Homo sapiens: one gene and its partners. The protein of the gene in region 2 purifies or fractionates together with the protein of the main gene of each other region. This does not show direct contact. Each region holds a gene or a part of one and is shown on either strand. Other genes may lie near its edges.

Region 1 (8,154 bases), on a different chromosome or scaffold from region 2:
GTATAAAATCAAGGCACACACAGGCAAATATGGCCAAATTTTCACATCTATGGGATCTACTCTCCTTGCTGCATTAATTTTTTTTTTTTTTTTTTTTTTTACAGCTAGTCACTTTGGTTGACCAGTGAAAGCCATTTTTGCTCACTAGTCATGTTATCTACCCAGTTTTATAAGCTCAAAACTGAAATGCACCTGAGCATTTTCCAGGCCCTGGCCTCTTTATATGCCATAGTGAAAGAGAAGCACTTGAATAATACATTTTAATCCTTATAAAAATTCTTTAGGCAAATACCATAATTCATCAACTCTAAGACACCACTGATTATAAGATGTATCATTATTGCACATACCTCTCAGAAAGAAAAACAGCTGTCAATTATATGGGACCCACCAACGGTAAGATACATTCTGATTTCCAAGAGATTAAAATTGAAAAACTGTGCATCTTAGAATCAATAAAATATAGTTTTATCATCTCCACTCTATAGGTGAGGAAACGGAGATCAGAGTTTGGTAGTTGGCCAAAGCCCCCCAGCTAGTGAGTGGCAGTGCTGGCGCTGTAACCCAAGTCTGACCAACTCCAAAAGCTATGCTTTTTCACTGGACTTCTCCAGGAGGGAAACCCAGGACATGACACAAGAAACGTCTAGAGCCTGATGGCACCAGCCATCACATTAACAGATAACAACCTCCGCCTTAAAGCTTTAGACCGCATAGACTTTACTGTGTGAACCTTAATTACCCGAGTTAAAGAGAAAAAAGCTACATGATCCCATACCAGACAAATAACTAAGAAAAAAAATTCAGAAGCAAACATTACTACAATATTGAATCATCTGTACCCACCCCTCCACCAAAATGATATGCTGGCTGAGGCTGAATATATAATACGATTTTAAAAACCTCATATTAGCTTGAGATATAATCTCTCTGCTTCTGTTATGTCTAAAAGTAGAAATGTATGACATAGTCTCACAAATGATGAAGCAAGCACAGTTGGAAATATACACCTTAGTTTTTTCTGATTTGTTTTATTAACATCTGAAGTCAAATTGCACAAAAAGCCTAGTACATATGATAGCACTTGATAAAAATAATGTAATTCTCAAGGTTTTGCAATTTATTCAAGAATTTATTCAAGAACTGTGATTGAGTGTAAATTAAATCACAACTGCACGATGACTCACCATTTCTGCTATATGAGGGTAACAGTACTTACCATCAGCATAGAGTCCTTTGGGATTATCAGGACAAGATCTAGACAGGTGCCCCATTTCTCCACAAACAAAACATTTTGCAAAAGGAAATTCGCCTGTAAAAATCAACAGTTCCTATTCAGTTGACAATACATATGGCAAGTCATAAAATTAACATTATTTTAAAATACTCTGAATAAAAAATATATTTACATAACTTAAAATTTAATCTCATATGATTTCCAAATACTAAGTGGCACACTCGTAACAAATTGTGTTAAAAAAATACCCAAGGTGCTATTTATTGGCTTTCCCCATGAACAAAACAAAAAACTGAAAGAAACACATACCAAGAGCCGGGTCTACTTTAGCCTTACACTTGGTTATTTCGTGCTCTGTGGACCCACACCTGTAACATATCCCAGTGCCCATGTCTTGATTTTCAAGGGCGGCGGGGCAATCTGCAATTCCATGACCAGGTTTTCTACAATGGAAACACACCTAGGAAAACAAAACGTAGGTTGGCACGCTGCAAAACTATACCAGTGACTTTATTAATTCTTGTTATCAAAAACATATTTAAAACATTTCTCATCTTATTAAGCTATTTTTCTGAAATCTCAATATTTGTAGAAAAAAGCTTTCATACGTTCCTAAACAACGAGATATCCTTTCCATCAGAGGGTTTCATTGCTTTTGAAAACCTCAATCAATAAATCCATAAATCTCAGGAACAATGTTATATATGTGGCTTTGTAGACGGCAATTGCTTAAATGAATTGAGCAAATATGGACTATTCATTTTATTAACTGGAATGTCTGCAGTAGAAAAATGGCATTTTCTATAGGAAATGGACAGTGGCTATAAAAACTGTCACTCAAAATTTGTATTTGTATATAATTATGTACTCAAAATTTTAAAAAATTAATATTTCTTTTAAAGTTCACATAATTGAATGAATTTGGGTCAGACATTTCCATTCAAATTATGATTCAAACCATAAGATAGATAGATAGATAGATAGATAGATAGATAGATTTTTTTTTTTTTTTTTTTTTTTTTTTTTGAGACGGAGTCTTACTCCATCACCCAGGCTGGAGTGCAGTGGCCCAATCTCAGCTCACTGAAAACTTTGCCTCCTGGGTTCAAGTGATTCTCCTGCCTCAGCCTCCCAAGTAGCTGGGATTACAGGTGTGTACCACCACCTGGCTAATTTTTGTACTTTTAGTGGAGACGGGGTTTCACCATGTTGGCCAGGCTGGTCTCGAACTCCTGACCTCAGGTGATCCACCCGCCTCGGCCTCCCAAAGTGCTGGGATTACAGGCATGAGCCACCACGCCTGGCCATAAGATATATTTCATAGCAAAAAGTATATCCTTGTTTTTTACCCTAAATACTTTTTTGTTTTTTGAGACAGAATCTCGCTGTCACCAGGCTGGAGTGCAGTGGCGTGATCTCGGCTCACTGCAACCTCCGTCTCCCAGGTTCAAATGATTCTCCTGCCTCAGCCTCCCAAGTAGCTGGGATTACAAGCACGCACCACCACGCCCAGCTAATTTTGGTATTTTTTAGTAGAGATGGGATTTCATCATGTTGGCCAGGATGGTCTCGATCTCCTGATGCACCTGCCTCAGCCTCCCAAAGTGCTGGGATTACAGGCATGAGCCACCACACCCAGCCATACACATTCTTTAATATTCAGAAATAGGTTTCATTTTTAGAATATATGCACAATACATTTTAAAGGAATAATTTATTCCAAGATGAATTATTTGGCTCCAACATAAAACTGAGCAATGGTTAGTTGTTTACAGAAATTTGAAGAATTTTTTTGCTGCAATAAATGAGAACATCAACCATAATCAAAGATGGCAGATATTTAAACTATTTTATTTAAACTGGAAAAAGATATACATATTTCTTGGATAATAAATAGTCATTTAATTATGTTTTTTCAAAATAAGCACAGGTTTTTTTAAAAAGCAAATTCAACCAGCAAAATAAAACATTTATTTTGCAACTGTCCTTTTTTTCCTACTTAATAAAATATTGAAAAAGAATGAGTCCCTTTAAATTCTTCAGTAACTTGTACATTTAGAATGAGCTGGTCCAAAAAAAAGAAGCTGTATTTATTATACAAATGCAGGAAAAGCTACTGCTAAAACCTGCATCACCACCATAAGAAGTCTTGGCTTCTTGGTGAAGTCAAGGTGGTCTCTACTAAGCTGAGACTACTGCCTTAGTTCACTGCCTTCTCTTTTAAAACCTAATCATCACCTAATACAACATTTTTGAATGGTCCTTAAGTTTAATGTAGATGGGATTGTGAAGCACTGATTGTAAATTTCTATAGCATATCATTTTATTAGCATTTAAGGACCGATGCTTAGTATAAGGTATTAAAAAAATACCAAGGAAGTAAATTTAACAACAGGTCATAACAAGCCATATACTATTTATATAGCACTCCCCTTTTTAAAAAACAATATCCTTCCCCACTTAATTACAAACATAATGCTTTTCTTAAGCGGTCATAACAGTAAATGTTTTCAAATGGTATGTGATTCACCATACCGCCTATGTCAACTAAACTAAAATGACTTAAAATATTTAAAAATCGTTAACTTACACAAAACTCTATCCTGATACCAACAGAAATGTTATCCTTTCTATTCAAATTTATCCATAAGGAATGTTTCATCAGTATTATCTCTAAATAACTATCTTTAAATATAACAATGCATAGACTAATCTTGCAAACAGCCAAAAGACACATTTATAGAGGCTGTTAACATTTTAAGCCTGCAATGGTGCAAACAGTGCTCTACATATAGTAATACTAATAAAAAATAAAAGTATAATAACTAGCAACAAGTCCTCATTCTTATGAAGTGGTGTACTAGGAGGCTTGGGAAACTCACTTAGAGAAGGGAAATAATTATACCAAGTATTTCATCCCCTTTGCCTGACATACTTTAAAATCTAGGGCTAGGCATTAGAGAAAGAAACCTGCTGCCCCCAGCATTCTTCTGAATGTAATATGGGGGAGGGAGGAAGCAATGACTAGGGAGTCTCAAGGACTTTCAATTCTGCTATTACTCTGCTCTAACTAGTATGACTCCTATGTATCTCTTTCCTGTGCTTCAGTATTTCATAGATAAAGAACATCCTTTCCAAGTAATAGGGACCCACACACATTTAACCTGTTCTACTTCATCTTCTTCATAATTTTGACATTTTCTCAATGCTAATTTGAAAAAGGGGCTATTGGAAGGTGAGGATAGGTTTTGGTTTTTTTGGAGGACGAACTCTCGTTTTGTCACCCAGACTGAAATGCAGCGGTTGATCACATGGTTCACTGTAGCCTCGACCTCCCAGGCCCAATCCTCCTGCCTCAGCTGGCAGTAGTAGCTGGGATCACAGGTGTGTACCACCACACCTGGCTAATTTTTTTTTTTTTTTTTGGTAGACATGGCGTCTCCCTATGTGGCCCTGGCTCGTCTTTAATTCCTGGGCTCAAGTGATCCTCCCGCCTCAGCTTCCTAAAGTGCTGGGATCACGGGCATGGGCCACCACATCTGGTCTATAACGTAGGTTTTGAAGTCAGGCTGGGTTTGAATGTCACCTCTGCTACTAGCTAAGTGGCTTCCACAGGTTATTTAATCTATCTGCACTTCAGTGTTTGCCATCCATAATATGGGAATATATGCCATCACCTTTGCTGTGTTGTTGTAATAATTAACCAGTACATCATGTGCCTAGCATATATGTGCTAAAAAAGTACTAGTCCTTAAAACGATGCTCTATAAATCTGGGACATAATGGTAACCAGAGCTGGCTAAGGTATATATGTGTGTGAATATAAGAATAGTTTCCAGCTAAATAAAGTAAATAACATGGTAGAAGTGATGCTCTCACCATTGCATTTTTCTTTGCCGCTTGTCTTTTTAATCTTCTTCCTTCCCGTCGACTGTCTTTCTTTAAAGCAACTGCAATTTCTTCCCTTACTTCCTCACTGTCTGTTGCTATAATTTGCCCATTGTGAACCATCTGTGAATTCTGTCTTAGGTATTCCATGAATCCATTCACATCTTCATTTAAGTACTCTTTTTTCTTTTTGTTCTTTTTATGTTTTGCTTGGGGTGCATCATTTTTGAGGGATAGCCTATTGGCTTCAAGTTGTTTACGCTTTGGTAGGTTTTGGCTTGTTCCCTCAAAGGATCCCTTCTTCATGTCCTCCCATGATGTTGCAGGCAAGGGTCTCTTGTTATATGTGGTACTAACTCGGGCCCACCTGGTCATAATTTCATCAGTGGTACCTTATCAATTTTTAAGACAAGCATGGGTGGTTAGCCATCAACAACAAAAACAACAAAACTAAAGAGACATGCTATATCACTATATGTCACATATGCCCATATGTTAAACTTTTAATTATTAAAACACTTTTTATTTCAGTTAGATATCTGTATACATATTTAATGCTATAATATGCTGCATAGACATGCTTCTAACATAAATCTACCACTTACCAGAAAAGCTGCCACACCAGTTAAAAAAGGTGTGCTTAAAATTGAAAAACTATCTTAAGAAACCAAATTATTTCATAAAATATAAATCAGATAGTAATACAATGAATGCAATTATTCCTCCCACATTCTGCAGTTTTCCCGGCTGTTTATTTTCCTATCTCCAAGTCCCACAGCTACTTTCTCCCAATCTTCTTGCTTCGTCTGCCATTTCAATGCAACAATTTGCATAGCAGATTACTAAGTATACAGAAATCATGTCCTTTAATATGAAGTTTGTTGAAATTTCCTGGCAAAGTTATAAGTAAAACATATAAAAGTGTTTACCATCACAGGATGATCCCGGGCTTCCTCTTACTAATCAAGGTATAAGCTACTTCCAGCCCAGTGATTTCACATCATCTTCAATTCTATTTAAATTATGACTTGAATCATAAGATATATTTCACACCAAAATCTGTATCTTGTTTTTATACTCTTAATACATATGCTTTAATATTCAGAAATAACTTTTCATTTTAGAGCACATACATAAAGAAGTAATTTATCCTAACACTAATGATTTGGCTCCAACATAAAATGGAAAAAAGTTTTGGTCACTTACATACTACCTAGTGATTTGGAGGATATTTTTTTCCTGCAATGAATGAGAACATTCAGCCATAATCAAAGATTCATCAGCTAGTCACATGCTACATAACATTTAGGTCAACAGCGACTGCACACATGATACTGGTCTCAGATGATTATAATGGAGCTGAAAAATTCCTATTGACTTTGTAGCCCTCATAACTTGTAGTGTAACACATTACTCATGTCTGTGGTAATGCTGGTGTAAACAAACCTGGGATGCCAGTCATATACAAGCATAATGCTTACAATGATGTACTGTACATAATACTAGACAATTATAAGTATTCCAGAAAAAAGCAGTTATTATAGGAGATGACAGCTCCATTCATGTTACTGCCCCTGAAAACCTTCCAGTAGGACAAGATGTGGAGGAAGAAAAGAGTGATATTGATGCTCCTGACCCGGTGTAGGCACAATGTGTGTGTCTTAGTTTATAACAACAAAAAAAATTTTTACAGGAAAAAGCTATAGAATAATGTAAGGGAATAAAGAAAATATTTTTATATAGCTATACAACACATTAGCATTTTAAGCTAAGTGTTATTACAAAAGAGTGGGCCGGGTATGGTGGCTCACGCCTGTAATCCCAGCACTTTGGGAGGCCAAGGCCAGGTGGATCACAAGGTCAGGATATCGAGACCATCCTGGCCAACATGGTCAAACCCCATCTCTACTAAAAATACAAAAATTAGCTGGGCGTGGTGGCGCACTCTTGTAGTCCCAGCTACAGGCGCGCACCACCTGGGAAGCTGAGGCAGGAGAATCGCTTGAACTCAAGAGGTGGACGTTGCAGTGAGCTGAGATTGCGCCACTGCACTCCAGCCTGGGTGACAAGAGCAAAACTCTGTCTCAAAAATGAGAGACAGAGAGAATAAACTCCGTCTCAAAAAAAAAAAAAAAAGGTCAAGGAGTTAAAATTAATTTAAAAGTTTATAAAGTTAAAAAAGCACAGTAAGCTAAGGTTATTACCTTATTTTTAATAAACTTAGACTAAGCATACCGCATTTATAAAGTCTACAGTAGTGTACAGTAATACCCTAAATAATATCGTAGGCCTTCACACTCACATACCACTCACTGACTCACTTAATAGCTACCGACAGCCCTGCAAGCTCCATGCGTAAGTGCCCTATTCAGCTGTACCATGTTTTCTTTTACACTATATTTTTACAGTATCTTTTCTGTGTTTAGATACACACCATCCTTTTACAACTGCCTACAGTATTTAGTAGTTATACTGTACAGGTCTGTAGACTAGGAGTAACAGGCTATCCCATACGGCCCAGCTGTGTAGGTTTGTGCAAGTACACTATGATGTTCACACAACCACGAAACGGCCCAACCATTTCTCATAACTATACCAGTTCTTAAGGGGAGCATGGCTGTATTAAGCCACCACCTTTTTTGTTGTTGTTGTGGTCGTTGTTGAGACGGAGTCTCACTCTGTAGCCCAACCTGGAGTGCAGTGGGCGATCTTGGCTCACTGCAACCTCTGCCGCCAGGGCTCAAGCGATTCTCGGGCCTCAGCCTCCCGAATAGCTGGGATTACAGGCGCGTGCCACCACGCCCAGCTAATTTTTTGTATTTTAGTAGAGAAGGGGTTTCACCATGTTGCCCAGGGTGGTCTCGAACTCCTGAGCTCAGGAGATCTGCCCGCCTCGACCTCCCAAAGTGCTGGGATTACAGGCGTGAGCCACCGCGCCCGGCCTAAATTATCACCTTTTAAGACCAGCATCCCTGGCAACCCCCCAAGTCTCAGCTCCTAGTAACAGAAAGACCCCTTCCACAGAAGCT
Region 2 (7,525 bases):
GCGCACCCCTTACCTGTTTTTCACTCCTGTAAGCAAGTGCCAATCTTAATCACCGCTTTTCAAGCAAGGGAGATTATCCTCAAATTTCTCCACCAGTCAGAAACCATTCATTCTTGTCTCTCAGGTCCTCTTTTGTGATGAACCTATTGGATAGGTTCCATCCAATACCCTTCTTCAGATCATCTGAAATGATTATTTTCCTAAACGGAACTCTTCCTCTCCTAAAGCTTGTAAAAATTTCTAGTGACATTCAGCTTCCTCTTACCACAGGAATGACATATATTTTTCCTTTTAGTCATATGTACTTCATTAATATATCACCTGATTTGATTAACATGACTTTGGAGAACATTGAATTTTTTGGCTAGATTTTACTTCGTTTTTATTGCTGATAGTGTTTATAAAAATGTTTTATAGTTTATGGTCGGCTGTGAGAAAGACTAACTCAGATCATTTGTTAATGTTGGAGCCCATTTTGTAGAATTCGTTGTGCATTTATTTAAAATTTATTTGTTCATAGCTATACATATATTATACATGTATACCTGCTCACAGCATAAAGTATTTCATGACATACTTGTAAGAGTCAGTGTTCTATGAATTCACTAGAGAAGTTACAGCATTTTGATTATGATACACGAAAAGAAACCCAAGTCATTTAGCTTAACTCCTTAATTTCATAAACCAGAAAACTAAAATCCAAGATAGATTGGGTGACTTGGTCTAGATCACAAACCAAAGTTAGCCATAATTCGGTAGTGTAGTGCCCGGTCCAAAACCTCATAGATAATCTTATAATCAATGGACTCTTTCTGAATGCTAGTCAAAATGTCCTTTTGTGTGAATTTTAATGTACCGTCATCAACTGCATGATATTCTTCCCCATACACAAAGTGTTATCTTTTTGTTGTCCATTTCAGAATTTTCCATGTTAATATTAAAGTTCTAGGAAAAAAGGCTAAGAATCACTGCACATTTATTGAGTATCTCAGTGTGCATCATACCATTTGGTCATTTGAGGTTGCAACAAGTAAAAAACAAACATAAAACCCTTAAATTAAAATAAAAACAAAAAACTTTGCCCTGACAATGTTACAGAATTAACATCCATAAATTTACTTTTCTTGAAAAATTTATTTTCTTTAATTTCGTTTGTTTCCTGTTACATAATTTATATTTAAATTTACATTTATTTATCCAGAAACTATGTCCAAATTTTATGTCCTCTTTTCTGTTATCCTGGAGTTTGGTGAAGAAATCTGTACTTAATTTAGAAAAGAAATCCCTCTAACTGACAATATTGTTAGCTAACTATATATTTCTTAGGCCCATGTCAAATATCATTGCTTATTTTAATAAAGATTGTTTAGTTAGACTAAGAAAATAGTAAATAATAAGGGATGGCATCCGTTAAGTATAAACACTGGATTATTTTTCATAACATAACAGGTCAACAATATCGTTTTGAGGCTGAACTCCTTTACTCCTTTTACTGTAAGCTATTGAAGCCAAACTCCTTCCTACCTTTGTTCATTTATGATGGTGTAAAATTTTAAAATTAGGATCTACATACAGAACAATGCAGAATTATATAAAAATATTTGAATATTGAAAAATGAAGTGGAAATTATTATTATTATTTAGGTACAGGGTCTTGCTCTGTCACCCTGGAGTGCAGTGGCATGATTACAGCTCACTGCAGCCTCAAACTCTTGGGCTCAAGTAATCCTCCTGCCTTAGCCTCTGTTAACCATGCTGGTCCTGAACTCCTGGCCGCAAGTGATCCTCCTGCCTTGGCCTCCCAAAGTGCAGGAATTATAGGCATGAGCTACCATGCCTAGTCCTGAAATTACTATCTTCTTCCTTAACCCCCATCTCCCCCACAAAAAAACAAAAACTTCCTTTTTTCTTCATATTTACATTTTAATTGTATATGCTGCAATGGCCTATTTGTATCACCCCAGAGTCATGTGTTGACATCCTAACCTGCAATATGATACATTAGGAGGTGGGGCCTTTGGGAGGTAATCAGGTCATAAGGGTAGTGCCCTCATGAACAGGATTAGTGTCCTTATAAAAAGACACATGAGCGCTCGCTTTTTTTCTCTGCTCTTGCTATGTGAGGATACAGCAAGAAGAGGACCATCTGCAAACCAGGAAGTGGGCCCTAACCAGAAACTATATCTGCTGGCACCTTTATCTTGCACTTCCTAGCCTCCAGACTGAAAAATAAATGTTTGTTGTCTATGACACTCCATCTATGGTAATTTGTTATAGCAGCCCAAAGTGACTAAGACAGATGCTAACAAATCGAGATTTATTTTAAAAACTATTCTCCTGCTATGAGTTCAATATTTTTATTTCTTTACAATGATTTCAGAAGAGATTACAAAGAGATTAATATACTTAAAGAATCAGACTCTTGCAAACAGTGACATCATTAAAAAGAGCTTATTTTCATTAACATGTGATTAACAGGAAGGAGATGATTGGTGAGTTTTCTTCGTAACCAGGTTCACTGTGGATAGGAAGGGCCTGCCTTCCTTCCCACCATGGAGATCCTAAAATCACAAGCTCCAGCCTCCATCAATGATGACAGGGTTACCAGTTACATAAGCAGACTGCAGTGATAAACACAAGGAGACAGAACAATTAACCAGGTTTGATACAGGCTGTATTTTGAAATTTTCCTGTGACTAGGATAACTAAACAATTTACCCTTGTCCTAACAGGAAACCTCACTTAAACACTTAATTCAGGGAAATCCAAATTAACATTTGGTTGATTTAGAACTGCTGAGTGTCCTGTGATCTGGAACTAAATGGCCTCTGGCTGGTGTCTAAGCACCTGTCACTGTTAGGTATTTGGTCTCAGAATCCCCAAATTAAGGAACAGTGATGTATAGCCATTCCCCAAATTAGGATATAGGCTAAAAGCACATTTTCATTTTGAAACTCAGAACTATTCAAAACTAGCTAAGTTTTATGCCACTAATAAACTTTTGAACATAAGTGTATCAGTCATAAAATGGTCATATTAATGACCAGTTTTTTAAAAAAGACAGCATATATTTAGTTGATCAATTATAAGTGGATAATTGTAGGAGCTGAAGCACACTAAATGTGTTTTAAAAATTTACATGAATGATAATAACTATAATCCATTAAGCTATAAAAATATTCTATATTAGTTTCAGATATCCAAATCTTTATAAAACTAAGGAATTTAAAAAATAATTACTGGTTTATTCCCATAAATTTTTCATTTTCTAAATAAGGCTGAAGTGATCTTTTTGGTAGAAGTTTAAAAATCTTTTAACTTAAAATGGATAATAAAGACTCAAACAGTCTAAATTCATCTGAAGCCTGAAACAATGGAAGAGGAAGTAAGGATATCATAATGAATAGAGAAATTTTAAGAGTTCAATAGATAAAAGCTGATAATATACAGTAGGTGAACTAGGGAGTTATTAGTCACTTCACCAAAGAAATACCTCCAACTCCCCCAAGTTCTTTTAAAAGACAAGCTCTGTTACACATATGAACTCCTCTGGAAACCTCTAAAAAGCCAAAGGTACTTTTGTAGCACATTTCAAGCCACAACACTTCCAAATATCTTGTAACCTAAGCTCTGGCTAACTAAGGGTAATTTAGCTTATCAGCAGTACCCAAATCAAATGAGCTATTCTGAAGATACGGATTCAGAGAAATCACAAAGGCTCATGTGCTTCTTCATTAAACATTTGTCTATTAATTTCCCCAGCTATTAACAATTGTTGTTAATAGTTGGGAGAAGTTCTGAGAAGAAACTGCGCTGTCACGGAAACATTTCAATCCCTGTATTTGTCACATTCACCAACTATCTGGTGTGCACCAAGTTACTGGGAAGAGGAGCTATCAGTTGTTCCCTCCTCGCTCCCGCCTAGTCCCCTTTCCTTCCCTCTTCTCACACATTACAGTTCCTTGTTCCTGTAGTATTCAGAGACATAAAACAGAGGAGGACCTTCTTGTGCTCTATACCTTATAAGCATCATTTTTGCTTTCATCTTAAGCCATTTAAAAGTAAACAATAGTTATTAAGGAAAAAACTGTTAAACAGATGCAAAGTGGAAGAGATTAAATTAGGAATTTCCATACACGATGATGAACAAGTAAGAATTTTTAAAAATATTTATTTATTTTGAGACGGAGTCTCACTCTGTCACCCAGGCTGGAGTGCAGTGGCGCAATCCCGGCTCACTGCAACCTCCGCCTCCCTGGTTCAAGCGATTCTCCTGCCTCAGCCTCCCGAGTAGCTGGGACTACAGGCGCCCGCCACCACGCTCAGCTATTTTCTGTTTTTAGTAGAGACGAGGTTTCACCATGTTGGTCAGGCTGGTCTCAAACTCCTGAACTCAGGTGATCCGCCTGCCTCGACCTCCCAAAGTGCTGGGATTACAGGCATGAGCCACCATGCCCGGCCACAAGTAAGAATTAATAGAGAAAAAAGAGCCAGTGGAATTCTCCCAAACAAGTCACAAGTAAAACTAAAACACCACATGCGAATTCTGTGTCCACTGAACACAAATCTGCTTAATCCTCTCCCCATTTCACTTAGAGCTCTTATAATCCTGGAGGTTCAATTTTTTGACTTGCATTTAATCAGGGTTTCCCCAATTATAATTTTTGAAAGGAACTGTCTCTCAGAAAATTGAGCACTTTAACTTTTTTAGTCCTCCATTTTGTTTGCTACAAGATTTTATGTAAAGCTGAATAAGGAAGAATTAGTGGCTCAGATCGAAGTGGTCTTTCTTTGAGCAAATTAAATGAGAACTTATCCCTATCTTATAAATGTAGCATCTTAGCACATATATGCCACAAACTCTCTAAAATGATATTATTTTGATGAGCAAATTGTGGCCAAATGTGATTGAGGGTAATGAACTCCTTGGGAAGAATAGTGCTTACTTCATCAGAAGCCAAATACACGCAGAGCATGGCTATTTCTTCTGCAGTTGCGAATCTTCCCGTCTTTTGTCTCTTCAGGAAATCATTCCGTGCCTGTGACCAGAGACCATACCAGACATTAGTGATGGAAGCAGCTGTATGTGCTCACCTGCATCTTGTTCAAGGAGTTAAAGGCAAGAGAATCCACTGGCTTGCTGCCTTGATGAATAATCAACTAGGGTTATGGTGATTCTTTTGCCAAAGTTACTCAAATTGTTTGTGTTATACTAAAACCCACAGATATTGTGACACATCAGAAAGCTAATGTTAAAGGATGAGGGCATTATTTTTTCATCTTCAAAAGTTGTGGTAAAGTATACAGAATATAAAATTTACTATCTTAACCATTTTAAGTGTACAGTTCAATAGTGTTAGGTACATTCACACTGTTGTGCCACCATCACCACTGTCCATCTCCAGAACTCTTATTTTTATTATTATTATTTTTTCTTAGAGACAGAGTCTTGCTCTGTTGCCCAGGCTGGAGTGCAGTGTTGTGATCATAGCTCACTGTTGTACCTCAAACTCCTGGGCTCAAGCGATCCCCCAGCCTCAGCTTCCCAAGCAGAACTCTTTTCATCTTACAAAATGGAACCTCTCTACTCATTAAGCATTAACTACTCTTTTCCCTCCTTCCAAGCCCCTGGCAACTACCATTTCACTTTCTGTCTCTATGAATTTGTCTGCTATAGGTATGGAAGAGGGCATTTATTAACAAAAGGTTTAAATACATTTTAAATGCTAGATGTACCTCTTCAGGATTTCCTCTGGCTTGTATTCTTTCTTGTAGAGATGGCGTATCAACTGTTCCTAAATCAAAGGGGGATATTCAGCTTGGTTACTCACTTTCACTGAAAAAGAAATCGATAACTAAACTTCCTTTCCATATGACAATCAGTGAGATTCTTCTCCTTGACTTAAAATGACAACTTTACAGCTGCCTGCCTGAGGCCTCTTATTTAATAGGCTTATAATTTCTTCAATAACATTTCTATGATTTTAAAAACACAGACTATGATTCTTCGTGACACTATGTAGGGACTCTGGATGAATCACCCAGCATTCTCAAGGACATATATTTTAGTCACATTGCATTTATATGATGCTTTATGGATTTTAAATACATTTATGCATATGATCTCAGCTAATCCTCACAATAACCCTGAGATGTAGATAAAATCGTACAAGCACTTTGCCAGCTTAAGGAGCCAGTTTGCCTCAATGATCTCAAAACCATTCTTTGCTGTCAAGTTCACTGTGGCATCTTTGGGGACAATCCCATGGCTACCATAGTCCTTGGTAATTCAGGTGGCGCTAAATTTTTCTTATCACCTTGCCTATTTTCATTGTTTCAAATGCCTACTTTTAACCACAGTTTCAAGTTTTTAATCAAAAATATAATTTAATCTAATTTAAAGTTATTTTACTTTAAAAAAGAAAAATAAGAACAACGCTAACATTTTAAAATTCCACTTAGTTTATGGTCTCCTAGAGCACGTTACCCAGACTTTTTTGTTAACGGACATAAACTGTTCATTCTCTTTAGAGGGCCCTTTTTCAGACTAAAGAGTACTCTGGCAAATAATGTGATCTTTCTGAGGTTGTAACAAATGGTTTTACAGTCATACTTCACCCTTAGATCATGTTCCTGAGAGTGCCATAGATTTGATCTTTATTCAGAAAACATTTCTTAATTTTAGCATCATTTGCTATTTTTTTCTGATGAAGCTGGAAATCTTCAAAATCAGAAAGCCTGACTCCATTTTGGAACCCCCTCTTTAGGTTGGTTATCTGTCTCTTGTCACATTTTACTATAAGCAGCCAGCACTTTCAAGACTCTGGGTAGAAATCACCTTAATTAGATCACCCAGTTCATTAGGAACATCTTCTACCTTCACACTACAGGCAACAGTGTTGATGTACTTTCTGAAACTGTATGACAAAGACACTCTTTTTTCTAATTTTCAATAATATTTTCCTCACTTTCCTCAATAGCCTCCTTAAAGTCCACAGTTTTACCAACAGTGTGCACCTCAAGCTTTCACTAACACTCCTTCAGAATCTTACAGCTTTAATAGCTTTCTCCCTCTGAGGTAAATGAACATCATATCTTACATATGACTGGTACTAATGGCTATTAAATAAGAACTGTAGAGCAAGCCCATGCCTTTAGAGTATTCCAATGTCACTGGGTTCAGCTGTGTCCATGGCACAGACATACTATGCCAGGGTCTACACAAGTCTGGCTGGAGATTTGTGACTATACAACCATCAGCAGCATCTCAGACATACTCAGTCCTCCTCAAGTTTTCTTCTGTGATTGGTTCACTGAGTCACAGCTAGTTCCTTGTTCCAAAGAGTTTGATAACATATTTTCCAATCTCCTGATAAGTCCAGTCGCTGAAACAACCACATTTTCCAAATCATTTTACCACTTATTCCACTGGGTAAATGGCACCAAGAATAGCTAGACTCAAGTATCGCCAGGATGTACATTAAAACCCAATGAAATGACCTCTCATGCATTCTTCTTTTTCTTA
Region 3 (8,154 bases), on a different chromosome or scaffold from region 2:
AAGTGATTTGGCAAATTAAGATTTTAAATTAAAAAAATGCTAAAATGCGTATCTTCATGCATACAGCTTTTCCCATAATTTGAATTATTTCTTCAGAAGAGTTTTTTTTTTCCCCCTAGGGAGAATTACTGGGTCAAATGATAGAAAAAGATTTTATGAATTTGGCCAGGGATGGTGGCTCGTGCCTGTAATCCTAGCATTTTAGGAGGCTGAGGCAGGAGGATCACTTGAGCTCAGGAGTTCAAGACCAGCCTGAGCAACATAGTGACACCCTGCCTTTATTTTTTTTATAATTAAAAAAAAAAGATTTTATAATTTTAACACATTTTCTCAAACTATCCCTCCAAAAGATTCTCCTAATATACAGTGGGCTACAACACTCCACGGCCAGTGTTGTGGGGCAGGGATATTTTGAGAGAATGACAGTCTGTCTCGCAAGACGTGGCAAGGTGACAGCACTTTGGTAAACAAGGCACAGTCTGGTGTTCTAGTCCTCAGCCTCAGGGCTGAAATCCAATAGTGTTCACCAACTCCAGTACCAGTTCTCAAGGATGCGCTCCCTTTAACCAAGCTCATACGATTCATTATTAACACTTAATGCCAATTTCATCATGTTTTTTTGTTGTTGTTGTTTTTGTTTTTTGAGACGGAGGGTTGCCCAGGGTGGAGTGTGCAGTGGCATGATCTCAGCTCACTGTAACCTCCGCCTCCTGGGTTCAGGCAATTCTCCTGCCTCAGCCTCCTGAGTAGCTGGGATTACAGGCATGTGCCACCATGCCGGGATAATTTTTGTATTTTTAGTAGAGATGGGGTTTTGCCATTTTGGCCAGGCTGGTCTCGAACTCCTGACCTCAGGTGATCCATCCACCTTGGCCTCCCAAAGTGCTAGGATTACAGGCATAAGCCACTGCGCCTGGCTAGTTTCATCTTTTCTTTTTTTTTTTTGAGATGGAGTTTTGCTCTGATTGCCCAGGCTGGAGTGCAGTGGCACGATCTCAGCTCACTGCAACCTCCGCCTCTGTTCAAGCAATTCTCCTGCCTCAGCCTCCCGAGTAGCTGGGATTACAGGCGCCCGCTGCCACGCCCGGCTAATATTTTTGTATTTTTAGTAGAGACAGGGTTTCACCATGTTGGCCAGGCTGGTCTTGAACTCCTGACCTCAGGTGATCCACCCATCTCAGCCTCCCAAAGTGCTGGGATTACAGGCGTGAGCCACCGCAGTGGCCGGTTTCATCATTTTTAATCAGAAATGTAGTCACCAATGGTACCATATTTTCATATCCTAGGGTAAGCACATTCTCACACTCACAGAGAAAATCAAATTATAACCAAGGATGCCAGTTTATTAATTTACTAGAAATATAATTGCCAAGGGTATGGGAACGTCAAGTCCTCAGGCTAACACATTCTCTCCGTTAGGGACATGGCAGCCAAATCATCAGCAGATTTATGGTGAACACGGAAGCAAAAGAACAGCTGTCAATCGTACAGGTGAAATATTTAATAGTGATAAGCTAAAATCACTGACATATCATATTTACCTCTATAGCAGAGGGACACCTGTTCCCAAGACCTGACAAGGGTCAGGCAACCTCAGCCTGGCACTGTTTGTATGGAAAGGCCAACATTCACACTTTTCTTTTTTTTTGAGATGGAGTCTCACTTTCTCGCCCAGGCTGAAGTGCAATGGCATGATCTCAGCTCACTGCAACCTCCGCCTCCTGGGTTCAAGTGTTTCTTCTGTCTCAGCCTCTCGAGTAGCTGGGATTACAGACACCCACCATCATGCCTAGCTAATTTTTGTACTTTTGTAGCGATGGGGTTTCACCATGGTGGCCAGACTGGTCTCGAACCCCTGACCTCCAGTGATCCTCCCACCTCGGCCTCCCAAAGTGCTGGGATTACAGGTGTGAGCCACCATGCCTGGCCACACTTTGACTATTTTATCATGCTGCCATTGATGCATGGCCTAACAGTGACTGAACAATTTCCATGTGATAAGTACTGTTCTAAGCATTTTACGTATCTCTAGCCTGGACATATTGTTTGCTCAACATTTCACTCCAACTCATTTAGCGTGGAATTCACAGTCACAAACTTTTTTTTTTTTTTTTTTTTCAGACGGAGTCTGGTTCTGTCATCCAGCCTGGAGGGCAGTGGTGTAATCTTGGCTCACTGCAACTTCCACCTCCCGGGTTCAAGCGATTCTCCTGCCTCAGCCTCCTGAGTGGCTGGGATTATAGGCACCACCACCATGCCCAGCTAATTTTTTGAGTAGAGATGGAGTTTCGCTGGTCTCGAACTCCTGACCTCAAGTGATCCACCTGCCTCAGCCTCCCGAAGTGCTGGGATTACAGGTGTGAGCCACTGCACTCGGCCTCACAGTCACAAACTTTGATTCACAATTTAGTCTCCTAAGTATTTCCATAGCAGGAATGGGGTATCCTAAATATGGGATTTCAGTCATTGGAAGGGTATCTACTTCAATAGTAAAGTAAACAAATTTGCACCTGGCTTACGCATCAGTCTACTGACAGCTGGGTTACCATGAGTCAGACTCCGGAATATGATCAATTCTGGATACACAGACAAATTACATAAAATTCTGGATCTGTGAAGCTGTTAACCAGATAAAACCGTGGTGGTCCCATTGGTATTGCAATTGAGAGAGCCAACCACACTCCCTTATTCAGAGATCTTTCAACAACTATTAACATGCCAGGGTGCTGGGAAAACAGCAGCAAGTAAAAACAAAGTCTCTATTCTCAAGGAGCTTCCATCTAATGGAGGGAAGGCCGACTAAAACAAAAAAGTAAGTATATAACATGTTTGGTGGTAATAAAGCAAGAGAATAATAAGGAGAAAAATAAAGCAAGAAAATAAAACAGAAGAAGGGCTTTGTTCTTTTAGGCAGGCTTGTTCCCTGACAAGGAGACATAGGAAATGAACCCATATTTGGCACGGCAGAAGCAGAGAGCAAAGGGGAGCAGGGAAAGAGGACAGAAGGAGGAGGGGGCCAGCTCCTACAGAACTTCACATATGCTGGTTCAAACTTTGCATATCAGGAGGAAAGACGAAAAGCCAGTGGGAGAGATGTGAGCAAGAAAACCTGACCTTTTGCTGGAAAGGAGCACTCTGGCTGCTGGGTGGAGAGGTGGTTAGAGGTGGATATGGCAGAAAGAAGCCAATGGACTAGTTAGGAGGCTGTCCCAATCATTCAGGAGACAATGATGCTGTGGACCTGGTGGTAGCAGTGGAAATGGTGAGAGGTGGCCAGATCCTGGAGAGGGATGACAGGACTGGTAGCTAAGTTGGATGTGGGGTGTGAGAGAAAAAGGATTTAAGGAGGTCTCCAAGGTTCTTGGCCTGAGTCAATGGAAGAACGGAGGTGTCCTTCACTGGGATATGGACTCAGAAAACCACTTTAGGAGGAAAATCAAATGAGTTATAGTCTCTCCAATTTTAAGAAACTCTAACAAACACCTAATTATTTCTTTTAATATTATATGCACCTGGTTTTGTGTTAGCAACTTCATGGGGCACATTTTTGGCCCTCTTACTCTCCACAGGCATATCTAAACTATTTACCTTCTTTCTTCCTGAGACAGGGTCTCACTTTGTCATCCAGGCTGTAGAGCAGCGGCATGATCTCTGGTCACTGATCCTCCTGCCTTGGTCTCCCGGAGTGCTGGGATTACAGGCATGAGCCACTGCACCCAGCCCTTACCTTCTTTCTTATGATGTAATTTACTTTGAATAATTAAGGCTCCCTCCATGTTTATGAATTTCTACAAATTTATTTAGTTAGTATAAAGAATAATTACTGGGCTGGGCACGGTGGCTCACATCTGTAATCCCAGCACTTTGGAGGCCGAGGCAGGTGGATCACCGCAGGTGAGGAGTACGAGACCAGCCTGGCTGACATGGTGAAACCCCGTCTCTACTAAAAATACAAAAATTAGCTGGCCGTAGTGGCGCATGCCTGTAATCCCAGCTACTCAGGAGGCTGAGGCAGAATTGCTTGAACCCGGGAGGCGGAGGTTGCAGTGACCCGAGATCGTGCCATTGCACTCCAGCCTGGGCAACAAGAGGAAAACTCCATCTCAAAACAACAACAACAACAACAAAAAAGAATAATTACTATTACTGAATACATTGCATAGGGCAATGTAAATTACCTCTTTCTTATGATGTAGTTTACTTTGAATAATTAAGGCTCACTCCATGTTTATGAATGTCTACAAACTTATTTAGTTAGTATAAAGAATAGTTACCATTACTGAATACATTGCATAGGGCCTGATACTTTACCTATTTATTTCCTCTTCAAGCCCTCCAAGATGGGGGATATTGTGCACTGGCTGTCAGCTTCTTGAGGGCAGAGCCCATCCATGTCTGTTTCATTCACCATTGTTTACTCAATGTCTAGTGCAGTACATAGTTGTTGTTGTTGTTTTTTTTTTTTTTTTTGAGACGGAGTCTCGCTCTGTCGCCCAGGCTGGAGTGCAGTAGCGCGATCTCGGCTCACTGCAAGCTCTGCCTCCCAGGTTCCCGCCATTCTCCTGCCTCAGCCTCCCAAGTAGCTGGGACTACAGGCGCCCACCACCACGCCCGGCTAATTTCTTTTTTTGTATTTATGGTAGAGACAGAGTTTCACCATGTTAACCAGGATGGTCTCGATCTCCTGACCTCGTGATCCGCCTGCCTCAGCCTCCCAAAGTGCTGGGATTACAGGCATGAGCCACTGCGCCTGGCCACATAGTTGTTGCTGGATAACTGAATGAATGAATCCTGATATTATGGATAAGGAAACTGTCTCAGAGAGATAAAACAACTCACTCCAGGTCACCTAGGTCTTCTGACTCAGACTTTGAAGGCAATGCTTTTCCACTACCCTACTTGACCTTTCACACTGGGATCCAACACAGAACTGAATTATTCAATTATAGTATAAAACTATGAAACTATTCAAAAAGGGCAATTATGGAGAAATTATGTTTATAGAAATGTTTTATGTTGTGCTGAGAAAAGCAGGATAACTATATGTTTATAAGGACTGCCATTATGTAAAACATTTAGACATATGATCAGAAAGGAAGATGTATAAGTGGAAATATAGTAGGAAATGCATGAGAGTGGTTGATTTTTTCCCTCAGATCTTCAAATGTTGTGAAACTATTTTAAAATGTTACTTGTAAAATGCAATGTCCAAACACTGTTTACTTACCTTTGAAGGTGTGGTGTAAGAGTTCAAGAGGATTTCCTCTTCTTCTTCCACTTCAATTCTAAGAACACTGGTTAAGAAAAACAATAATGGCTGGGCACGGTAGCTCATGCCTGTAATCCCAGCACTTTGGGAGGCCGAGATGGGCGGATCACGAGATCAGGAGACAGAGACCATCCTGGCTAACACAGTGAAACCCCGTCTCTACTAAAAAAAATACAAAAAATTAGCCGGGCGCCTGTAGTCCCAGCTACTCGGGAGGCTGAGGCAGGAGAATGGCATGAACCCAGGAGACGGAGCTTGCAGTGAGCTGAGATCACACCACTGCACTCCAGCATGGGCGACACAGCGAGACTCCATCTCAAAAAAAAAAAATAATAATAATAATAATAAACTTTCATATAAGGCAAGGGCTGATTGCTAGAAGAAATCTCAATATTAGGCAATTTTTACTATTATTATTATTGAGATGGGGTTTCCTCGTCGTCCAGGATGGAGTGCAGTGGCCTGATCTCAGATTACTGCAACTTCCACATCCCAGGTTCAAGAGATTTTCTCACCTCAGCCTACCAACTAGCTGGATCTACAGGCGTACATCACCACACCCAGCTTATTATTATTATTTTTTAATTTGTACTTTGGCCGGGCACGGTGACTCACGCCTGTAATCCCAGGACTTTGGGAGGCCTAGGCAGGCGGATCACCTGAGGTCAGGAGTTCGAGACCAGCTGGCCAACATGGTGAAACCCTGTCTCTACCAAAAAAAATACAAAATTATCCAGGTGTGGTGGTGTGCACCTGTAATCCCAGCTACTCAGGAGGCTGAGGCAGGAGAATCACTTGAGATTGGGAGGCAGAGGTTGCAGTGAGCTGAGATTGCACCATTGCACTTCAGCCTGGGCAAAAAGAGCGAAACTCCAACTCAAAAAAAAAAAAAAATTTGTACTTTTGATAGAGACAGGGTTTCACCATGTTGCCCAGGTTGGTCACAAATTCCTGGGCTCAAGTGATCTGCTTGCCTCGGCCTCCAAAAGTGCTGGGATTACAGGCCTGAGCCACCGTGCCCGGCCTTATTATTTGTTTTTAAATTACACATGCGACTACAGACAAATTATAAAATACAACATGTAGCTTGGTGCAAAGACCTTCAGCAGAAAAGGATACAGCTCTTGAATGGAAACAATGTCTCTAGCTCCTGCATGGCCACTGTCCTTGCAGGTACTATGCCTGGCTTTCGATAATCTTTTGCTCAGAAACTGAAAAAGAAAAGATAGTGAATACAGTACTTCATAGTCAAGTAATAGCAGAGGTGTTTTCAAAAGCCTTGAGATAATAAAAGGTATTCAAAATATAATCAAAGATCTAACATTCCTCAAAGAATTAAGATACACACAGACTAAAAACAAAGACATCCCATGACTGTCTATAACATATAACAATCCTAATAATACCAATTATTTGGTGAAGACTTATCACCTGCTGGGCATAGTTTTAAGTGCTTTATGTCCATTCTCATTTCTTTTTTTTTTGAGATGGAGTCTCGCTCTGTCCCAGGCTGGAGTGCAGTGGCGCAATCTCAGCTCACTGCAACCTCCACCTCCTCGGTTCAAGCGATTCTCCTTCCTCAGCTTTCCGAGTACCTGGGATTACAGGCGCCTGCCACCATGCCCAACTAATTTTTGTATTTTTAGTAGAGACAGGGTTTCACCACGTTGGCCAGGCTGGTCTTGAACTCCTGACCTTGTGATCTGCCTGCCTCGGCCTCCCAAAGTTCTGGGATTATGGGCATGAGCCACGGCGCCCAGCCCCATTTAATTCTTATAACAATCATAAAAAATACAGATTATTAGACCCAATGTCAGAAAAGGAAACTGAGGCTCAGGGACATAGTTTGTCCAAGCTCACACTGGGACTGGAATCCAGGCCTGACTCGAAAGCCCACACTCCTCTCAATATATCACAATGCCTCCCCTGTAGAGCAGAAATGGAGAATCACATTATTAGTTTGCTTTCATTTTGTTCTTACCTCATGCTCAAAAGAGTTCAGGATCTCTGAGGTAAGGCCAACTTTATGTGTGCTGGTGCAGAAGGCTATAAGCTCGCCTACCATTCCCTCCTCATTCTGTCCATACTGAACACAAAGCTCTACCACTGTAGAAAGGAAAATTGGACAAGTAAAAACTTAGTTCATTTCTCGAAGTTTCACCTAGAAAAGCAAAAATAATCCTGGTTTACTCCATCAATGTTTATTCAGAATCTATTAGTGCCAGGCACTGTTTTGGGCAATGAGAAAACAGAAGCATCCTTGTCCTTACAAAGCTCACCACTGAGGGGAGACAAAAGAGGATAAGGGCAGAATCAGGGGGACCAATTAAAGAATCATGGAAAAGCCCAGGTGAGAGATGATGGTGGCTTGGATCAAGGTGGTGGCAGTGGAGATGGCGAGAAGTGGCTGGACTCTGGATAGGACTTTACATGCTGGAAGTGAAGCCAGTGGGATCTGCTAACTGAATGTAAGGTATGAGAAAAAGAAAGTCAAGGATGATGCTGATATTTTTAGCCTGTGCAACAGGAAGAGTGGCGTCCCTATTAACTGAGATGGGGAAAAGAGCCAGAGGAACTACTCTGAGGAGAGAGAGGAGATACCAGGAGCTTAGTTTTAGACATGCAGAGTTTGAGGTGCCATTTAGACATCCAACTGGAGACAGCAGGCTGAACAAACCAGCCTGTAGTTCAGGCAAGGGTTGTGGGCGGAGGTATAAATTTGGGAACCATCAGTAAATACATGGGATATAAAGCTATGAGACCCCAGGTGAGATCGCCAAGGGAGTGAGCGTATCTAGAAGGGAGAAAAGATCCCAGGCTTGAGTCTTGGGGCGCCTTAGGGCCTCTGAGGATGAATCGGCAAAGCCTGAGAAGCGGTGACACAA
Region 4 (8,154 bases), on a different chromosome or scaffold from region 2:
TTCATTTGTGAGGTGGACCCAGGTGGGGTGCACGTGAGGATTCAGAAAATTCCTTACACCTGCTCTATATGGAGAACCCAAGAGACCTCAGTTCTTTTCTTCCTCACTGCCTTTTTTGGGGGTGGGCACGTGATGCAGGCAGGAAAACAAAGACAGAAATGTGCAAATGGGGCAATGAGAAGATACCGATCAGCACCAGGGTCTTCCTCTTGAATGCAGGGAGCCGAACGACTTCCTCGTAGGAAACAACATCCAACTGATCAAAAACTAGAGACAAAGAAAACCAAGCAGTGTTCATTTCCAGAGCTAGGGAGAACAGTGGTCCACACTCTGAAATGGGAAACAGCCTCGCGACATCTCAACAAGCAGGGAGGAAGTGACTAGAGATGAGACGAGGGAGGTTGGTGTGGAGGAAGGACTTTGGACTGTATTTTTAGTGTGGTGAGGGAATTTTGAGCAAGGGAGTTTATCTAACTTTTGCACCCTCTCTTCCTCCTTGCCCTATCTCTCTGAGCCAACTTTTCTTGTCTCCTGTCCTCATCTCTTCTCCATAGTTTCAGTATCAGATGTTCCCTTGGCACTTAGAGCTGAAGAATGCCAATGCTATCTCGGTTCTGCCTGAATGTCCCTTATCTTAGAAGATGGTGGTGCTATTGACCCAGCTGCTCAAGATAGAGACCTGGTGTCATCCTGACTCTCCACCCCCTTACCTGCCTACAACCCAAGACTGCCACGATCATTCCCTGGCTGGTGGTGTGCACGTGACGTCTCAGAAAAGAGAAATGCAGATGGAAAGCTGACCGTGCGAATTCTCTGCTCAAAACCCTTCACCAGCTCCACAGTCTATAGTGCAAAATTTAAAACGCTAGGGAGGGTGCACGAAGCTCCCTATGACCTGGCCCTGGCCTCTCCCTCTGGCCTGTGTTCTTGCCTCACTTCCCCTCTCCCACCACATCTACTTCTGTGTGAGGGGTGGGGTGATGAGCAGGTGTGGGCTCACCACTAGTCCTCCTTTACATCCACTGGCCTGACTGCAGCAAGCTTGTGAAGATGGATTCAATAAAAAGAAACCAGAAGAAATGACATGCTTTCTGTAGAATGCGCCTTCTGCTGCGCACTGCACCACCTCCCCTTTTCTGCTGGTTACAGAGACTGGGAAACACGTGAATGCTGCCAGGAACCTGGGGCAAGAAGGCTCAGAAAGCTTACTCGAGCTGTGCTTGGCCAGATATTTGTCTTTGTACTTCTTCTTCTTCCCAAAGGGACTGCAGCTCGGGGCTTCGCTAGGAGCTGACTGAGCCATACTTGCCACTCGCCTGGTAGGAAAAGACAATCAAGGGGTCAGCTTTCCTCCCCCTCCCCTCATACCCCCCCCAGCCACTCAGTCTCTAATGGCACCCCCTTCACTCTCTGAGTGTCCATTACAGTGGGAGATAATGTGTGCAAAGCACCCCATACACTGTTTGGTGCATCTTGCACTGTGCCCTGCCCTCAGTCAGGGACCTGGCTCCTTGAGTCTGTGTCATCTAGTACCTGTCAGCACATTCTGGACACAACCCACAAACAACTCTCTTTCTTTGGTCTAGACCATAAAGGTCTCAAACCTTTATGACCCTACCTCACTCTAAGAAATACACTGTACATTGCAAGCCATTATTGCACATACATCTATAAACAAAACACATACACACACCCCACATATATATCTAAAACAACTGCTTCACAAAACAATAACTTGTATTACTACATGTAATATATTCTAATATTTCTATTCAGTGTCAACCCCACAATGGTTGTAATCTTTACACTGGGGTAAGTTTGCACAGGCAGAGGGAGGCTCAGTGTTGGATGTCTTATCAGTTGGAACTGTTTTGTGAATTTTTCTGCCATTCCTATGATGTAACCAGGACTAAGTGAGCAATCTGACTCGGGGACAGGAATTATTTCTTCCATGTACCAGGAATGTGCCTAAAGGACACATACTTAAATGCGACTGTTTTCTGCAGGACTCCAAGGAAATCCCAGAAACAGCATGGCTGGTAGAAGCGCACTAGCTTGGGAAACAGGAGACCAGGGAGGGCTCAGTCCCAGCACTGTCACGTGCTTGGTAACTATGGGGAAAACGTTTAAGGAAGCAAGAGGCCCACATAAGAATGAAGAGCTATTTGGGCTCCCTTGCCTGTGGTTGCCTCTCAGTCCAGCTTATCAACGCATGGTTAACCCTCCCCCACCCATTATGCCAGGAAATCTAGGAGGTCTCCTTGGTTGAGAAACAGAAACTACAAACAAAATGACAGATTTTCTGAAGCTAAGTTATTTGTGGCAGGCACATGGCCCTTCCACCTGCACAAAAATGGCTCACCATTCCTGCAGCTCAGGGGAAGGGATCAATCCTGCTGACTCCTTGGAGGAGCCTTCCACCCGTCCCTGCCACCAATTGCTGTCATCCTTGTTGATAATCTGGATAATGTCCCCAGTAGCAAACTTCAGTCCCGCCTCCTTGCAAGGGATCAGATTGTCCTTTTTGGGATCATAGTCAAACTGCGCTCTCATGAACATCTAAAAAGAAGGTAAAAGGAACTGCAGGCGGCAGCTTCAAAAGAAACACCAGCATCAGAGCATGTCCTGCTGTAGACAAATGGGGTCAGGATGGAATGAACAACAGGGAGGTAAGAATGGTGGGGGAGCACCCAAGAAAGAGAAATTGAAACGCTGAAGTGATTGTGTTTGCGGAGGGGTCAGAATGAATCCCTTTAACAAGAAGGCATGAGAAGCCAGGCGCAGTGGCTCACGCCTGTAATCCCAGCACTTTGGGAGGCCGAGGCGGGTGGAACACATGAGGCTAGGAGTTGGAGACCAGCCTGGCTAACATGGTGAAACTCCGTCTCTACTAAAAATACAAAAATTAGCTGGGTGTGGTGGCGTGCACCTGTAGTCCCAGCTACTCGGGAGGCTGAGGCGGGAGAATCGCTTGAACCCGGGAGGTGGAGCTTGCAGTGAGCCGAGATTGTGCCACTGCACTCCAGCCTGGGCGACAGAGTGAGACTCCGTCTCAAAAAAAAAAAAAAAAAAAAAAAAAAAGAAGGCATGAGATATCTTTCCACGTCAACGTGTCCACAGTTACTGCTGGATCTGGGTCGTCTGTCTCAGTACAGGGCAGCTACTCTTTGAACAACTGTTTTCACAATTGAAAATATGGACACTCATATCTATCAAAGAACTTGAATTTATTATTGAAAATTCTCCTCTCCTGCTCCCAAACACACACACACACACACACACACACACACACACACACACACACACCTACCTCATTACTTCATTGACAAATTTTCCAAGCATCATTTGAAGAAAGAAGGCTAATCTCATACGAAAACAGATTATAGAAAATGATGGCACTTCCCAACTCATTATAAGCATGATACCCAAATCTGACAAGAATCTTATAATTTCTCTCTGCAACAGAGATGTAAAAACCCCAAACAAAATATCAGCAAGTCAAATTTAGTTATGTATAAAAAGTATAATAAATCACAACCAAACAGGATCTAGTTCAGCAATATAAGAAGGTTTACTACCTGAAGGGCAATAAATTCACCACGTTAACATAAAAATGGAAAAAGATCATATGATCCCCTCAATAGATGCAGAAAAAGCCTGTGATAACATTCAAAACCCATTCAAGATTAAAATTCTTAGCAAACTTGGAATAGAAGGGAGGTTCTTTACTGTGAGAAAGAATACCTACAGAAACCCTACATCCAACGTCATACTTCTCAGTGAAAGATTAAAAGCTTTCCCTGCCTTTTTCAAAGGACATGGGTCTTGCTATGTTACCCAGGTTGGTCTCGAACTCCTGGGCTCAAGCAATCCACCCGCCTCGGCCTCCCAAAGTGCTAGGATTACAGGCGCATGCCACCACACCTGGCCAGCTTTCCCTTTAAGATGGAAAAATAAACAAAGATGTCTGCTATCATCACTTCCACTGGGATACTGTGAAGATGCCTCTTTTATCCAAACTGATATGTAGGTTTGACACAGGGATAAACAAACAGTCCAAAAGAAAAGAATAAAAAGTTCCAAAATAGACCTGTAAATATTACCATGACAAAAGTGACAGTGTACAGTAAATGATACTGGTTCAATTGGTATCCATATGGAAAAACTGGAATCTTGACCTCTTACCTTACAATGTATATAACAATCAATCCCAGATGGGTTGTGGATCCAAATGTGAAAAATCAAACAAGTAAGCATTTAGAAGAAAACACAGGAGAATATCTTGTTGACCTTGTGGTAAGTAAAAACTTTTAAAACAAGACATAAAAAGTGCTAATCAGAAAAAAGTGGTAGATTGGATTTCATTAAAATTAAGAGTTTCTAGTCATTAACAGGAACCATGAAGAAAATAAGCCACAGAAGAAGAGAACATACTTGGGATGCATATGACAAAGGACTCTTATCCAGAATATATGAGGAACTGCTACAAATCAGTAAGAAAAGCCTTGAATTGGTATCTTACAAAAGAGGATATCCAAGTGGAAAAAAACATATAAAAAGGAGTTTACCCTCATTAGTCATTAGAGAATTTTTAGAATCACAATGTGATACCACCATCAGGATGGCCAAAGGGTGAAAAAAAACCCAACAAATCAGACAATGCTAAGTATTGGTGAGAATACAGAACAACCAGAACTGTCATACTGTGCAGTTGGGGATGTAACATGGTTCACCAACTTTGGAATACTATTTGGCAATATCACCTAAAGATGAAGACACATATATCCTACAACCTGGCAATTCTACTCTCAAAAGAAAGGCATAGATGTATCCACAAAACACATGCACAAAAATCATATGATTTTTCTCCATTTTTCTGTTAACGTGGTGAATTTATTGCCCTTCAGGCAGTAAATCTTCTCATATTGCTGAATTAGATCCTGTTTGGTGAATGGCAGCCATTCAATGTAAGACCAAAAAAGCTGACAGAATAGATTAAATTGTAGCATGTTCATACAATGAATGAATGAGAATGAAGCAATATAGATGATTCCCATAAACATAATACTGAGCGAATAAAATAAGACACCAAAGAATTCATACTGTATAATTCAACGTTAATACATTTCAAAAGGGGGCAAAACTCATCCCTGCTGTTAGAAGTCAGGGTTATGGTGGGCCTTGAGGAAACACGCATGGTGAGGGGGCGGCGGTCTTAGGCATGGGTGTACTCAGTTTGTGAAAATTCATCCAGTTTTATACTTGTGATTTGTGCCCTTTGTTGAATATATGCCCATATATGCCAAAACTGCAATTTAAAAGTTTACTTAAGAAAATTATACCGTCACACTACAAGTAACCTGCAATAGAAACTTCAGATTTATTCTTTTAAATATCTCCTTCTTCCACATTGACTTGCCATGGCCCTGTCCAATCTATTCCTCTACTGGCTGATGAGCTATGTGTGAACTGGGAACCATTTCTCTTTATATCACCTCCATGTTCTAGCACAGTACTTTGTACATGGTAGACCCTCAATAAATTGTGAATAAGTGCTCAACAGATTCTATCTATCTTTTGTTTCTTTCTTTACTTTGCCACTATCAATCACGGGGCTTTATTATTGCTATTTTAAAAAGTATTTGCCAATTTGCTTGGTGAAAACTGGTGTCTCATGCATATTTTAATTTGCATTTCTTTGATGATCGGTAAGATAAAATATTTTTTCATATGTTCAATGCTCATTTGTAGTTTTCCTCCTGTGAATGATCTCTTCATTCCCTTTACCCATTTTCCTCTTGGAGCTGTATTGATTCCTTACCATCTGTAGAATAAAATTACCCTCTCCCTTCCTACCTGACCACTAGCAGCAAAGGCTCATTCATTCTCTACTCCTGTCGTCACTATGTTCTCCATTGAGGAAAGGGGAATGAGCTCCTGTATTTTATACCAGGCAGGGAATAATGGGACCCTGAGCCAAGCAGCTACACACTTGCGAGATACTTAGAACTTAAAGTTAGACTCACATCCCTTATAATCAAATTTCAAAGAATATAAGACAACATGGCCCGACTCCTGCCATCATGACAACAGAGAAAATGGTGCCACCCACCTGTAGTGCAGGAAGACGGCTTTGCTGGTTGGGAATTACTTTTAATGAGATCATTCCTTTGGTTTCTTTCTATTAAAAAAAATGGACATAAAATTGTACAGAAAACTAAGTTGAATGATGTGATCATTCATTCAAAGTCCCAGGTTTTTTTCCCCAACAACCATCTTTACATTTTGAGATTTTGTAGGACAATTCCTCCTTTAATACAAAAGTGTCATGTGCCCCATAAATCAGCATAACAATATGAAGACATGCAAAGAGTAACAAAGAAAAGCTAACTAAAGACTTTTCCGAGCTGGGCACGGTGGCTCACGCCTGTTGTAATCCCAGCTCTTTGGGAGGCTGAGGTGGGCGCATCGTCTGAGGTCAGGAGTTCAAGACTAGCCTGGCCAACATGGTGAAACCCTGTCTCTACTAAAAATACAAAAATTAGCCAGCGTGATGGTGGGTACCTGTAATCCCAGCTACTTGGGAGGTTGAGGCAGGAGAATCGCTTGAACCCAGGAGGCGGAGGTTGCAGTGAGCCGAGATCACGCCATTGTACTCCAGCCTGGGTGACAGAGCGAAACTCCATCTCAAAAAAAAAAAAAAAAGACTTTTCTTCCCCATTCTTTACCCCAAAAAGTCCTGAAGAAGTTCCTAAAAATGAACTATGGCGCATATATATCCACGCCTTTCCCCATACCAACAAAAGCATTACAAATATTTACATACATTATGCATACATATGTATTGTTTGTTTTTAACAAAAATGGGATTCTACTATATACGTTATAGCTTGCTTTACTTCATTTGGCATTACTTCATGGAACACCAGATTGATGCTCTGGGTTATTTGCCCTGCTTTAGAATTTTACTAAATAAAGGCAGAAAATTATCATTTCTTACACAGATTAAAGACTAGCAGTGAAAAGAGCCCCCTCAAGAAGGTACAAATACTTTGACAGAGAGATGAGGTCACTGATACCAATGTGGATCAACACTTATGGAGACAATGGAAGGTCTTCATCTAGCATAGAAAATACCCACCATCGCCTTCTGCAGCTGATCCACTGAATGATTTGTCACATTTGTGCCATTGATTTCTAGGATCTCATCCCCCACGTGAAGGGAGCCTGCCATGAAATGAAAAATCAATCCACAAAAGAACAAAAGTTCAAACAGGAGCTGTCAATGTAACTCAAGATACCATAGAAGAGAAACCAGGATTTACAGCATGTTATGAAACAGATTGTGTCAAATACTCAGGATTGAAAACATTTGACTTGACAGTTTAAGATGGTCTCATCCTCCTTGGCCTCAGTAGTCCAACAGCACAATAAAACACCTTGTCCTCAAATTCCTGGAACTAGAGTGGCTACTGACTCCAGACTATGACACAGATGTATACACTAAAAAGAATAACAAAGCAAGGCAAAGAACTCAGTACTCCTCTTTCACCAGCAAGCTCCATGTTTCTTTGTTGTTTAGCTCAAACCCCAAAATGCTACCAAGTGGTACTGCTGTCCTTTCCAAGTCTAATGCAATGGGTGGCATGTGGCAATTGCTCAAATATTAACTTACTAGAAAAATATTGGTATAAATAGGTGTGAAAGAAGGCTCAGATAGGGAGATGGTGGCACTGGGCAATTCACATAGAGATCTTATCATGTACTGATTCTACAGAGCCAGTTATTAAGCCACAAAAAGTCTCTTGGCACACTCACAAAAATGCTACCAGTTTGGAGGATTATAAGCTTCATGCCCCACACCACTGAACAGGGAGTAAATTATTAATCCCTGAATCAAACCCCACCCAGAGCTCCCACAGAGTACCTTGTCTATGGATCATGCCACCATGAAGAATTCTGGCCACCGTACAGGACTGTTTTTCATTCAGCTTCAGCGTGATTCCCTGAAATAAAGGCGACGGCACAATAAGCTTTATTTTAAGCTCTTTCTGAGGTTATTTTAGAAAGAACTTACGGTAATTTCTCAGGAAAATATTTTCCATTTATACCCAGGATAGTCCTCAACTAGAACAGGCATGAAGCCTGCTTTGA

The links.
Region 1: the proteins of BDH2 (region 2) and ZCCHC9 purify together in Homo sapiens (affinity purification with mass spectrometry; one large-scale study listed by BioGRID and IntAct). This does not show direct contact.
Region 3: the proteins of BDH2 (region 2) and POLA2 purify together in Homo sapiens (affinity purification with mass spectrometry; one large-scale study listed by BioGRID and IntAct). This does not show direct contact.
Region 4: the proteins of BDH2 (region 2) and MPP1 purify together in Homo sapiens (affinity purification with mass spectrometry; one large-scale study listed by BioGRID and IntAct). This does not show direct contact.

What each region holds. Positions count from the first base shown.
Region 1 is NC_000005.10:81,302,104-81,310,257, reverse strand, and holds part of ZCCHC9 (zinc finger CCHC domain-containing protein 9), read right to left. Parts: intron 7,049-8,154; exon of another isoform or gene 6,055-7,048; intron 5,518-6,054; 5' UTR 5,501-5,517; coding exon 5,117-5,500; intron 1,698-5,116; coding exon 1,547-1,697; exon of another isoform or gene 1,313-1,546; coding exon 1,220-1,312; exon of another isoform or gene 1-1,219. UniProt on the Homo sapiens protein: May down-regulate transcription mediated by NF-kappa-B and the serum response element.
Region 2 is NC_000004.12:103,077,135-103,084,659, forward strand, and holds the end of BDH2 (dehydrogenase/reductase SDR family member 6), read right to left. Parts: intron 5,796-7,525; coding exon 5,737-5,795; intron 5,040-5,736; coding exon 4,947-5,039; intron 2,622-4,946; coding exon 2,568-2,621; 3' UTR 458-2,567; downstream 1-457. UniProt on the Homo sapiens protein: NAD(H)-dependent dehydrogenase/reductase with a preference for cyclic substrates. Catalyzes stereoselective conversion of 4-oxo-L-proline to cis-4-hydroxy-L-proline, likely a detoxification mechanism for ketoprolines.
Region 3 is NC_000011.10:65,265,803-65,273,956, reverse strand, and holds part of POLA2 (DNA polymerase alpha subunit B), read right to left. Parts: intron 7,376-8,154; coding exon 7,251-7,375; intron 6,481-7,250; coding exon 6,389-6,480; intron 5,286-6,388; coding exon 5,228-5,285; intron 1-5,227. UniProt on the Homo sapiens protein: Accessory subunit of the DNA polymerase alpha complex (also known as the alpha DNA polymerase-primase complex) which plays an essential role in the initiation of DNA synthesis.
Region 4 is NC_000023.11:154,783,842-154,791,995, forward strand, and holds part of MPP1 (55 kDa erythrocyte membrane protein), read right to left. Parts: intron 8,007-8,154; coding exon 7,928-8,006; intron 7,228-7,927; coding exon 7,142-7,227; intron 6,182-7,141; coding exon 6,113-6,181; intron 2,560-6,112; coding exon 2,363-2,559; intron 1,317-2,362; coding exon 1,210-1,316; intron 268-1,209; coding exon 187-267; intron 1-186. UniProt on the Homo sapiens protein: Essential regulator of neutrophil polarity. Regulates neutrophil polarization by regulating AKT1 phosphorylation through a mechanism that is independent of PIK3CG activity.